Linked DNA regions of Homo sapiens: all the other regions are linked to region 3. The links come from fine-mapping of genetic effects on gene expression. A gene starts in region 3. Each other region holds a variant in brackets. All regions are shown on one strand. Distances are between the middles of the regions.

What was found. PIP is the estimated chance that this variant, and not a neighbour inherited with it, causes the effect.
Region 1: its variant is the best candidate, but not a certain one, in a credible set for the expression of LINC02705 in whole blood (TOPMed, PIP 0.63).
Region 2: its variant is the best candidate, but not a certain one, in a credible set for the expression of LINC02705 in whole blood (INTERVAL, PIP 0.66).

What each region holds. Positions count from the first base shown.
Region 1 is chr11:60,079,201-60,083,452 of GRCh38, forward strand. It overlaps the pseudogene YWHAZP9. Among named protein-coding and RNA genes, the nearest start is that of MS4A2, 7.3 kb to the right of the region's middle. The variant A/G (reference allele first, on the strand shown) is at 1,693.
Region 2 is chr11:60,132,027-60,136,278 of GRCh38, forward strand. No RefSeq gene overlaps it. Among named protein-coding and RNA genes, the nearest start is that of LINC02705, 30 kb to the right of the region's middle. The variant T/C (reference allele first, on the strand shown) is at 2,097.
Region 3 is chr11:60,162,509-60,166,760 of GRCh38, forward strand. It overlaps LINC02705 (long intergenic non-protein coding RNA 2705), which reads right to left and starts at 1,892. Exons shown (of 4, transcript XR_950142.1): 1 at 1-1,892.

The DNA.
Region 1 (4,252 bases), 83 kb before region 3:
GTACATCAAGCAAATCAGTAAAATTAAAAAAAAAGTATTTAATTGTTAAAGTGTTTTTTCTTTTATGCCTTTTTTTGATACTTGCCTCACATGCATGTACTGTAAAAGTAGTTAACAGAGAAGTAACTGGACATGATGCACAGTTTTGTTTCATATCTTATGAAATTTTTATGGACAATCCAACATAATTGTTAATAACACATGTATTATGTTCATGTAAGTGGAATAAACGCTGTATAAATAGACTTTCCAGCTGCTTTCTCTATAGCTTTTCATGTAAATTAGTCTTTTGATTCTGAAATTTCTCTAAAGGAAATTGTCCATTTTTTGAAATTTATTCCTCATTCTCCCTTGGCAGTTAATGAAATTTTACCAAGTTTAAACACAAAATTTATCATAGCAAAAATACTACTAACATAACTACTGTTTGCAGCCATGCCCCATGTTCCCCTCTGCTCCTCCTCACCCTGAAAAAAATGAGTTTCTGTTTTTTCTAGTGGAAGGGGATTGATTGGAAAAAAGTAATATGTTCCTTTTTAAATTTTAATATACAGCATTTTCTAACTTAGGAAGCCACAATGTTCTTGGTCCATCATGACATTGGGTAGCATTAACTGTAAGTTTTGGGCTTCCAAATCACTTTTGATTTTTTAAGAATAATTTATAGATACTATTATAGGCTGCCTTTGATTTTGATCCTTTATTCTTTCTATTTTTCAGGAGCACAAGATTACCTTCCTTTTTTAGCCTTCTCTCTTGTCACCAACCATTCCTACTTGGTGGCCGTTTACTTGGAAAAAGGCCGCATGATCTGTCTGGCTCCACTCAGTGTTTAAAACACTCTGCTTCCTTTGCCTGCATCCCATAAACTATTTCCCTCATCCTATTTACTGCAACAAACCTCTCCTTAGTTTGTGTTTATCTCTCTTTAAACCTTATCTATCCTGAATATTCTGTCATTGTCTGCCTTTAAAATCCTTCCTCTTTCTCTTCCTCTATTCTCTAAATAATGATGGGGTAAAGTTATATCCAAAGTTCGCTCTACAGAATATTTTCTCAATACTCTGCAGAAAACACCAAACCAACCATTTTAAAAGAGGCATTTTTTTGTTTTGTTTTGTTTTTTTAGAATGTAATCTCCTCAAGAGCAGGGACAATGTTGTCTCTATGTTCTATTGTGCCTCACACATTGTAAATGCTCAATAAATATTGATGACAGGAGGCATTGAGTCCTGATTATAAGGGTGAGAAATTGAAATCCCAAACACTGTTTTGTTGCTTGTTTTATTATGACCTTAGATTAAGTTGGAAAATATTTGTCCTTTTGAATAACTGTCCCAAATATTACATTCAAATAAAAGTCCAATGGAGGAAAAAAAAAAGACTAACAAGTTCTGGGTTTCTAAGGTGATGTGGTTTGGCTGTGTCCCCACCCAAATCTCATCTTGAATTGTAGTTTCCATCATTCCCATGTGTCGTGGGAGGGACCCTGTGGGAGGTAATTGAATCATGGAGGGGGCTGTTCTCATGACACTGAGTGAGTTCTCACAAGATCTGACGGTTTTTTAAGGGGCTTTTCCCTCTTTCCTCAGCACTTCTCCTTCCTGCCCTCATGTGAAGAAGGACATATTTGCTTCCCCTTCTGCCATCATTGTAAGTTTCCCGAGGCCTTCCCAGCCATGTGGAACTGTG[A/G]GTCAATTAAACCTCCCTCCTTTATAAATTGCCCAGTCTCAGGCAGTTCTTTATAGGAGTGTGAGAACAGACTAATACATAAGGTATGACATGGGTGGTGATGGATATGTAAATTAATTTGATTATAGTAGTCATTATACAATGTATATGTTTATCAAGTCATTACATTGTACATCTTAAATATATACAACCTGTGTCAATTACATATTTAAAAGCTGGGGCAGGGGAATAAGCAAACATGGAAACCTCCAGCCAGCCACCCACATTATAACAAAAACAAAAATTGTGGCTAAATAGATACTTGCCATGGAAAATAGTAATGAAAATTTGTAATAGATCATAAATAATAGGACATGCCTGAAAGAGGAAAAGACAAATTGATATTTTATTCAAAATACATTATATTGAGGTATGTGAAAGGTACAGAAAAATGTACAAATAGTGTACAACTTCATAATTTTTTTATTACGGTAAGAACACTTAACATGAGTTAACACTTAACAGTCCTCTTAACAAATTTTTAAATGTACACTACATTATGGACTATAGGTGCAATGTTATACATTATATCTTTAGAGCTTATTCATTTTGCTTGACTGAAACTTTATGACTGCTAATTAGCAACTCTCTATGTCTCTCTCCTAGGGACTGGCAACCATTATTCTACTCTTGGATTCTGTGAATTTGACTATTTACATACCTCATACAAATGAAATCATGCTGTATTTGTCCTTTAGTGACAGGCTTATTTCACTTAGCAAATGTCTTCCAGGTTCATCCATTTTGTTGCAGATGGTAGGATTTCCTTTTTTTAAAAAAAAAAGACTGAATAATATTCCATTGTATGTATTTAACACACATCCATTTATGGATATTTAGGTTGTTTCCACATCTTAGCTATTCTGAATAATGCTTCAATGAACATGGGATCCTGGTATTAATTCTCTTAAATATAGAAAGGTAGGGTTGATGGATCATATGGAAGTTCTATATTTAATTTTTGCTGAAACCTCCAGTTTTTCATAGCTGCTGTGCCATTTTACATTCCCACCAACGGTGTACAAGAATTCCAATTTCTCCACATCCTCGCAAATACTTATTATTTATTTATGTGTTAATAATGGTCATCCTAACAGGTATGATGAGGTGATATCTCATTTTGGCTTTGATTTGCATTTCCCCAATGATTAGTGATGTTGAGAATCTTTTCATCTACCCATTGGCCATATGTATGTCTTTTTTGGAGAAATGTCTGTTCAAGTACTTTGCCTACTTTTTAAATTGGGTTATTGTTTTTGTTTGTTTGATTGTTTAACTACTGAGTTGTAAAAGTTTCTTATATATTTTGGATGTTAATCCCTTATCAGATAGATTATTTGCAAATATTTCTCCCATCCTATAGGTTGTCTCCTCATTTTTTTGATTGTTTCCTTTGCTGTGCAAAAAGTTTTTATTTGATTTATTTCTACTTACCTATTTTTACTTTTGTTTCTTTGCTTTTGGTGTCTTATCCAATACATTATTGCCAACTTCAATGTTACGAAACTCTTCCTCTATGTTTTATTTTATGGGATTTACAATTTTGGGTCTTCTTTACAGTTAATTCTTCAATTCATTTTAAGTTGAATTTTGTATATTGTGTAAGATAAAAATCAATTTCAGTCTATTATGTAGGATATCTAGTTTTCCCGGCACCATTTGTAGAAAAGACTCCTTTTCTCATTCTGTATTGTTGGCAACCTTGTTGATGATCAGTTGACCATATATGTGTGGATTTGTATCTGGGCTCTTTTGTTCTGTAGGTCTTATGCCTGTCTTTATGCCAGCATTATACTGTTTTAATTACTGTTGTTTCTTAATACATTTTGAAATCAGCAGATGTCTCTAGCCTTGTGTTTTCTCAAGATTGTTTTGGCTGTTGGGGCCCTTTGTGGTTTCATGTGAATTTTAGAATTTTTATCAGCTTCTGTAAACAATTCTATTAGCATTTTGATAGAATTTGCTTTGAATCTGTAAATTGTTTTGGGTAGTGCAGAAATTTTAACAATATTAAGCCTTCCAATCCATGAACATGGATGTCTTTTTATTTATTTGTGTTTAATTTCTTTCCTCTGTGTTTCATAGTTTTCAGTGTACAGGTCTTTTACCTCATTAATTAAGTTTATTCATAAGTATTTTATTCTTTTCGATGCTATTTTAGATGAGATTATTTTCTTAATTTTCTTCTCAGGAAGTTTGTTGTTAGTGTATAGCAACACCACTGATTTTTGTATTCTGCTACTTACAGAATTTATTTATTCAAAGTGTATGTGTGTGCACATGTGTGAGTATATGTAGTCTTTAGGATTTTTACATATATGATTATGCCATCTACAAAGAGAGATAATTTTACTTTTACTTTTTTCCAATTTGAATACCTTTTATTTATTTTCCTTGCCTAATTTTTCTTGCTAGGAATTTTAGTACTATGTTGAACAGAAGTGGCAAAAATGGGCATCATTGCCTTGCTCTTTACTTTAAAGAAAAAGTGATTTTATACTCTCATATACTTTCATATTGC
Region 2 (4,252 bases), 30 kb before region 3:
CTGATTGGTAATGAAGATGTTAAAATAAGTATTAATTCAAAATCCAAGCTGTTGAAACTCTAAATTGTTTTGAGCCTTAAAGGAATGTGATTATGGAGTCTGAGTCATGTGACAGACAGCTGTAACCTAGGCAGCTATAAACTTTGTTACTCTGATTATAGATTAGCCTCGTTCCTTACCTTCACTGCTTCGTAAAATGTTGAAAATGACTAAAGGGCACCAGGAAAACCTCTTTCCCCCTTCACTGTTGATCTTCATTATAGTTTAGTTTTTTTCTTACATTTCTTACACAAAGATATGGCTATCACACTGTTTTAAGATGGAATATTAAATATGCTGTTTTAAATTGGAAAGGATATAAAAACCAGCTGTAAATTAAAGAAAACAAGCCCTATGAAAAAGAAAGCAAACCGTAATAATTAAATTTTTGTAACTCATAAACCAGCCTTGTATAGAAAAATTATACTAAACTTGTTTGTTTTCTGCCTATATAAGCGAGATGTTAACTTTTCACTTCAGAACACTGACCCCATTTATCTGAAGTCTGTTGTCTTCTGAATGACCATCCTCAACTTTTTGCTTGAACAAATTTTAAAAACTGGATTGCGATCCTTTTGCTTATTTCAGGTTAACAAAGACTAGTTTTCTCTCACACATAATCACTCAGTATTTTCACTTCTACTCCTGCACTCAAGTCTTGTCAGAAAAGGATATTAAAAAATAAGTAAAAGTCTGTATCTAATAACACCTCTCAGATTTATAACAGTATCTTCAGGCAACAATTGAAAGTTTGAGGTTTTCTAAATCATTTATCAATATTAGTTCACTCCTGTATATACATGATCCTTCCATCCAGGCATCAGAGTTGTCTGTTAGTTCAACAGAGATAAGAAAAAGACAAATAGGCCATGGTTAGGCCCAGAAGAATAAGCAAGATACAGTGGGAGCAAAAAGAAAGATTTAGAAGAGGGCTTCTCAAGAAAACACATAATTAAGACTTCTTCAGGTAAACATTTCAAATAGTGCTTGATATGGTTTGGCTGTGTCCCCACCCAAATCTCACCTTGAATTATAGTAATCCCCATGTGTTAAGGGCGGGGACAGGTGGAGATAACTGAATCATGGGGGCAGTTTTCCCCCATACTGTTCTCATGGTAGTGAATAAGTCTCATGAGATCTGATGGTTCTATAAATGGGAATTCCCCTACACAAGCTCTCTCTTGCTTGCCATCATATAAGATGTCCCTTTGTTCTTCCTTCATCTTCTGCCCAGATTGTGAGGCCTCCCCAGACATGTGGAACTGTGAGTGCTTTAAACCTCTTTCCCTTATAGATTACCCAGTCTTGAGTATGTCTTTATTAGTAGCTGAGAAAAGACTAATACAGTAAATTGGCACCGGGTAGTGGGGTGCTGCTGTAAAGATAACCCAGAATGTGGAATTGACTTTGGAACTGAGTAACAGGCAGAGGCTGGAACAGTTTGGAGGGCTCAGAAGAAGATAGAAAAATGTGGGAAAGTTTGGAACTTTCTAGAGACTTGTTGAATGATTTTGACCAAAATGCTGATAGTGATATGGACAATGAAGTCCAGGTTGAGGTGGTCTCAGATGGAGATGAGGAACTTGTTGGGAACTGGAGAAAAGGTGACTTGTTATGCTTTAGCAAAAAGACTGGCAGAATTTTGCCTCTTCCCTAGAGATTTGTGGCACTTTGAACTTAAGAGAGATGATTTAGGCATATGGCAGAATAAATTTCTAAGCAGCAAAGCATTCAAGAGGTGTCTTGGGTACCAATGAAAGCATTCAGTTTTATTCATTCACAAAGATATGGTTTGGAGTTGGAACTTATGTTGAAAAGGGAAGCAGAGCATAAAGGTTTGGAAAATTTGCAGCCTGACAATGCAGTAGAAAATAATAAAAAAACAACAACAATTTTCTGGGGAGAAATTCAAGCTGGCTGCAGAAATTTGCATAAGTAAGGAGGAGCCAAATGTTAATTGCCAAGACAATGGGGAAAATGACTCCAGGGCATGTCAGAGGTCTTCACAGCAGCCCCTCCCATTACAGGCCCAGGAGCCTAGGAGGAAAAAATGGTAC[T/C]CTGTGCCAGGCCCAGGGCCTTGCTGTTTTGTGCATTCTCCAGACTTGGTCCCTTGCATCCCAGCCATAGCTAAAATGGGCCAATGTGCAGCTCAGGTCGTTGCTTCAGAGAGTACAAGCACCAAGCCTTGGTGGCTTACACATGGTGTTGGGTCTGCAAGTGCACAGAAGTCAAGAATTGAGATTGTATAGAAATGCCTGGATGTCCAGGCAGAGGGGTGTTGCAGGGCTGGAGCCATCATGGAGAACCTCTGCTAGGGCAATGTGGAAGGGAAATGTGGGGTATGAGCCCCCACACAGAGTCCCCACTGGAGCACTGCCTAATGGAGCTGTGAGAAGACGGCCACCATCCTCCAGACTCCAGAATGGTAGATGCACTGACAGCTTGCACTGTATGCCTGGAAAAGCTGCAGACACTCAACGCCAGCCCATGAAAGCAGCCAGGAGGGTGGCCATACACTGCAAAGCCACAGAGGCAGAGCTTCTCAAGGCCATGGGAGCCCACTTCTTGCATCAGCATGACCTAGATGTGAGACATAGAGTCAAAGGAGATCATTTTGGAACTTTAAGGTTTAATGTCTATGCTGTTGGATTTCAGACTTGCATGAGGCCTGCAGCCCTTTTGTTTTGGACAGTTTCTCCCATGTAGAATGGGTGTATTTATCCAATGCCTGTACCTCCGTTGTATCTAAGAAGTAACTAACTTGCTTTTGATTTTACAGGCTCAGAGCAGAAGGAACTTGCCGCATCTCAGATGAGACTTGGACTTGGACTTTTGGCTTAATGATGGAATGAGTTAAGAATTTAGGGGACTGTGAGGAAGGCATGACTGGTTTTGAAATGTGAGGACATGAGATTTGGGAGGGGTCAGGGATGGAATGATATGGTTTGGCTCTGTCCCCACCCAAGTCTCACTTTGAATTGTAATAATCCCCACATATTATTATTATTAATATTATTTAATAGATATGGTTTCTGCTTGAGGTGGAAAAAAAGGTTTTGAATATAGTGATGGTTATGCAAAATTGTGAATGTAATTAATGCCACTAAATTGCACACTTAACAATAATAAAATGATAAAAAGGGCATAAGGCCAGCATTAGACTAATACTTATGAATTTATTCTTTAAAACCTGAAATGTGAAAATTAAATATAGAATGTTTTCATATTTTAAAAAAGTATCTGATTCAGTGAGAGCAGTTCTCTGAAAGAAAACTTATAGCCATAAATACCTATATTAAAAAAAGAAAAAAATTTCTCAAATGACCTAACTTGACATCCTGGAAACTAGAAAAAGAACAAATTAATCACAAAACTAATAAAAGGAAGGAAATAATAAAAATTAGACTATAGATGTATGTAATAGAAAATAAAATATTAGAGAAAATCAACAAAACCAAAACTTGGTTCTTCAATAGATCAACAATATTGACATTTCAACTAGACTGATAGAGATAGACAATGCAAAAAAATAATAAAATCAGAAAAGAAAATGAGACATATCTACCTATCTTACAGAAATAAAAAGGATTATAAGAGGAGGCATTATCAAGATGGTTGACTAGAGGTGTCCAATATGTGTTTCTTCTGCAAGGAAGGAACAAAACAACATATAAATAATTGTTTTATAGGTAGAGTGACTAAGGGCCAACACTGGAATTCAGCAAGGAAGGGATAAAAAAGCCTCTGAAGAATACACACTTGGGATGGCAGCATAGAGTGGGAAGTAAAGCATCTTGCCAGGATTGGTCTGAAGCCAGTAGGAATACTCCATTGTGAAAAAAAGTAAGCTGGAGATCCCCAGTAGTTCCTATTACCACAGCAGATGCTTGCAATCATAGCTTCAGGAGAGCCCTGCAGCCCTCACAGGCCCTGAACCTAATATAGGAAGTTTCCTGAATATCATGCAGCTGTATTGCTACAGACAGAAAACTCACATTGTGTCCTTCAACTCCCTGAGACCCAAGCTGCTGTGGCACAGTACGATTTTGAGAATATAGTTATTGCTGGAGTGTGTCCTGTCTTGGGGCCAAATATCCCTTGCACCTCCATATTCCTGGGGCCTTTCCATTACCCCACTACATATACACAAAGAGTTGCTATGCCATGATCCTAGCTGGAACTAGTAGTATAGCTATGACTCTGGCACTTGAAC
Region 3 (4,252 bases):
ATTTTATAAAATCCTTATTGTGTATCTTATCACATAACAGTTGTAATTATTTAATATACTTTCCCGACTATTACTTCTGTTTTTTTGAAAAACTCTCCTCCCGGTTCATGTGATTTCATTAGACTTGTAACCCCAGGTATGACAAAGTCTTTTCTTATGCCACAGTAACTGGACTGCTCTATTTTCTCATCCTTGTAAAATGGTAACTCCTTAGTGAATGCTTCAGAAGTTTCCAAAAATTCAAGAAAAATACCATATTGTTGGCAAATGTTAATTTATTGTGTATCATATTTAAGGCAGTAGGAAAAATGTTTCATAGAACCAAAAGATTGACATCATGTAAACAAACAAACAAAAATCAGTTTGCTACTAACACTTTCCCAATCCACTCTCTCATCTTGGTATTTTTTTCTTTTTCTTTTTCTTTTTTTTTTGCCAAGGACTTCTTAAAATCTTTTCAGGATTTTTCTTATAAAATATTTTGTAATATTTGAAACAAAACAATAAGCCTAATAACATCCTGACATCCATTAACATTTAAACAATTCAACTTGGACTCTAAATTCCCTCTACAAATCATGTTAATTCTATGATTCCTCCACAAGAATTTACATAGGTGAATATCTATACACATATGTATGTTTACATATATATGCACATATCTATATACATATATATGTGTCTTTTAACTTACTGATTTTTTTCTCCATTGTAAGCACTTATTTGGATGTTCAAGACACATGATAATAGAAACATTTACTTCCAAGTTTAATTTTGTAAGGCAAAATTCTCATTTTGTTTCTGGACAAAAATATCTTTTGGGCCTTTATATCAGCCTCCTCATATATTTTCTCATTCCAGGGGAGAAACTGGTTTTCATCTGGTTCTGTCGATCAACCAGAAAACTCTTGGATATCCCATTTCAGAGTCAAAGATATTAACATAATGTTCATTACACTATTGTGTGTGTAATTGGTTAAATTACAGCATAATTTTCTCTTTCTTTGCAACAGAATTGTGTTTTTGCCATGGAAAACATGTTCCCAATTAAGTGTGGTGACTGGAGGCCACTCATTGGTAAATTACAGATGTCACTTTATACCTGGATATATATATGTGTGTGTGTGTGTGTGTGTGTGTGTGAGCATGCATGTGTATATATACATATATATGTGTATCTTTATATGTGTGTGTGTGTGTGTATATATATATGTATATATCTCCCAGATATCACTAGATAGGCTTTTACCAAAAACAAAACAAAACAACTGCAGGATGTCATTTTACAGCACTTTCAACTATCTCCATGGATACAATATGATGTTGTTTCTCTGTCCAGTCCCAGCTAGATGCAACACAAGGAAAACTAGTTATCCATGGCACATGGACCAGACCATTAAAGAACAATGGTAAAGACACCACTTTCCACAATACCCTTCCGTGAGTTAGTCTCACTGTCGCTTTTGCATAGATGCATGTCCCTGTTACAGACTTGTCCACTGACTCTCAAAGACATTAGCTTTCATATCCAGCATTCAGCAGTTCTTCCGAAATGAGGATACAAGGCAAGTGTTGATGATGGTTATGCTCTAGTGTCCTAATTATTCCCTTCATTTACACCTCTATTGTTTTTCCTGGCTGACTTGCTGCTATTTCCACTTCCCTGGAGTAGTGCTAGCTCTACACCTATTTAGGTTAGCAAGTCCTGTTCACTCTTATAAGGTGTCTTTGGGGATAGATTTGTTAGGGTGTAACTCAGCACAGTAACCCCACAGAGGGTTCTAATTTCCCCTCAGATATGTGGTCTTGTGGTATTTCTATAATGTGTTATATTTCTAGATTTTTATGTGTATTTCCAGAAAAAAAAAACCCGTCTCTACTAAAAATACAAAAACAAGTTAGCCGGGCATGGTGGCGGGCACCTGTGGTCCCAGCTACTCAGGAGGCTGAGGCAGGAGAATGGTGCAAACCCAGGAGGCAGAGCTCGCAGTGAGCGGACATCGTGCCACTGCACTCCAGCCTGGGTCTGTCTCAAAAAAAAAAAAAAAAAAAACAAAAAAAGAAATTACCAGTAAACAGAGAGCCTAAGAATGAGAAAAAGTACTCACAAACTATACATCTGCCAAAGGTCTAATATCCAGCTTCTACAAGGATCTTAAGCAAAAACCAAAAAAAAAAAAAAAAAAAAAATCCAATTAAAAATGGGAAAAGGACATGCACAGACACTTTTCAAAAGAAGACATACAAGCAACCAACAAATATGAAAAAATGTTCAACATCATGAATCATCAGAGAAATGCAAATCAAAACCACAATAAGATACCATCTTACACCAGTCATAAAGGCTATCACTAAAAAGTCACAGAACAACAGATGCCGACAAGGCTGTGGAGAAAAGAGAACACTTACACACTGTTGGTGGGAATGGAAACTGGTTCAGCCACTGTGGAAAGCAGTGTGGTGATTCCTAGAAGACCTAAAAACACAACTACCATTTGACTCAGCAATCCTGTTACTGGGTTTTCCCAAAGGAAAATAATTCATTCTATCAAAAAGACACATGCACACATATGTTCATTGCAGTGCTACTCATGATAGCAAAGACATGGAATCAACCTAGGGGCCTGTCCATGGTGGATTGGATAAAGGAATTGTGGTACATATAAAACATGGAATACTATGCGATCATAAAAAACAATGAAAGCTTGTCCTTGGCAGCAACATGGATGGAACTGGAGGCCATTATCCTAAGCAAATGAACGGAAGAACAGAAAACCAAATACTGCATTGTTTTCACTAGCAAGTGGGAGCTAAATATTGAATACATATGAATGTAAAGATGGGAACAATAGACATTGAGGACCACTCACTCGATGGGGAAGGGAGGGAGAGGGGAACAGGTTGAAGAGCCCCTGTTGGGTACTATGCTTACTGCCTGGGTGATGGGATTTTTGGGACCTCAAGCCTCAGCATCATGTAATGTACCCATGTAACAAACCTGCACGTGTACTCTTTAATGTAATGCTGATGCTGATTATGCATTTGATTTCCCACCTTTCAACCCCACAACTTCTCAAGGAACCAGGAAACAGGGTACCATTTTAAAACTTCCAAATTTGTGAAAATAGAAATAAATTTATTACTTGAATTAAGTTCTTTTTCATCAGCTCATGTCACACCAAATCTTTCATGGGACAAAAAGAAACCCACGTTGGTTATGACTCATTGCCTCACCACATGTCTACTGACAATGAGCTCCCAGCCAGTGTCGGCCAGGACACAGTTGTTATTTTTCTTCTATTTTCTGCAATAACAACATCAAAAAAGGCAGTATGTTACCAAGAATAATAGTACCCAAAGTTATCCACATCCTACTCCCTGGAATCTGAGAGTATGCTATGATATCTGGCAAATGATTTTAAAAGTTACAGATAGAATCAAGTTTGCTAAGCAGTTGATCTTAACACAGAGTTTATCCTGGAGAATTATGGCAATTCTAATGTAATAATAAGAGTCCTTATAAGTGGAGAACCTTTCCCAGGTAAGTCTAAGAGAGAATTGAGGATAGAAGAATAGTCAGAGGTGCAACATGAGAAGGACATGATCTGCCACTGCCAGCCTTGAAAAAGCCCATGAGTCAATGAATGAGACAGCCTCAAGGAGCTAGAAAAGGCAAGGTCATGGATTTTTTTCCCTAGAAGCTCCAGAGAGGAAAGTAGTTCTGTAGATAACTTGATTTTTAGCCCAGTGAGACCAGTGTTGTATCCTGACCCACAGAACTCTAAGATAAAATTGTATTGTTTTAAGTCACAAAGCTTGTGGTAATTTGTTACAGGCACAATAGAAAACTAATATAAGCAGTGTGATAATGAGAAATTATAAATCACTCTCCCTCATATATATAGATGTAAGAAACTGAAAAATAAAAGTGGCAAATAGAATAGGAAGATGTATTTTTAAAGCATTTGGTCATGGCCAAATTGAACTCATTCCAGTTATTCATATATAATTTGACAATAGAAAATCTTCGAAAATCACTTACTGCAGAAACACATCAAATAAGAAAAAAAGACTTTGTTAATCTCAACAGAGGTATGCAGACAAAGCTTTTGATAAAAATCGATATATACAATTTTTTAAAGAAATTCATGGAGAAGTATGGCCATTTTAACAATATTGATTATTTCTATCCATGAGCATGAACTGTTTTTTCATTTGTTCATGTCGTCTCTGATTTCTTTCAGCAGTGTTT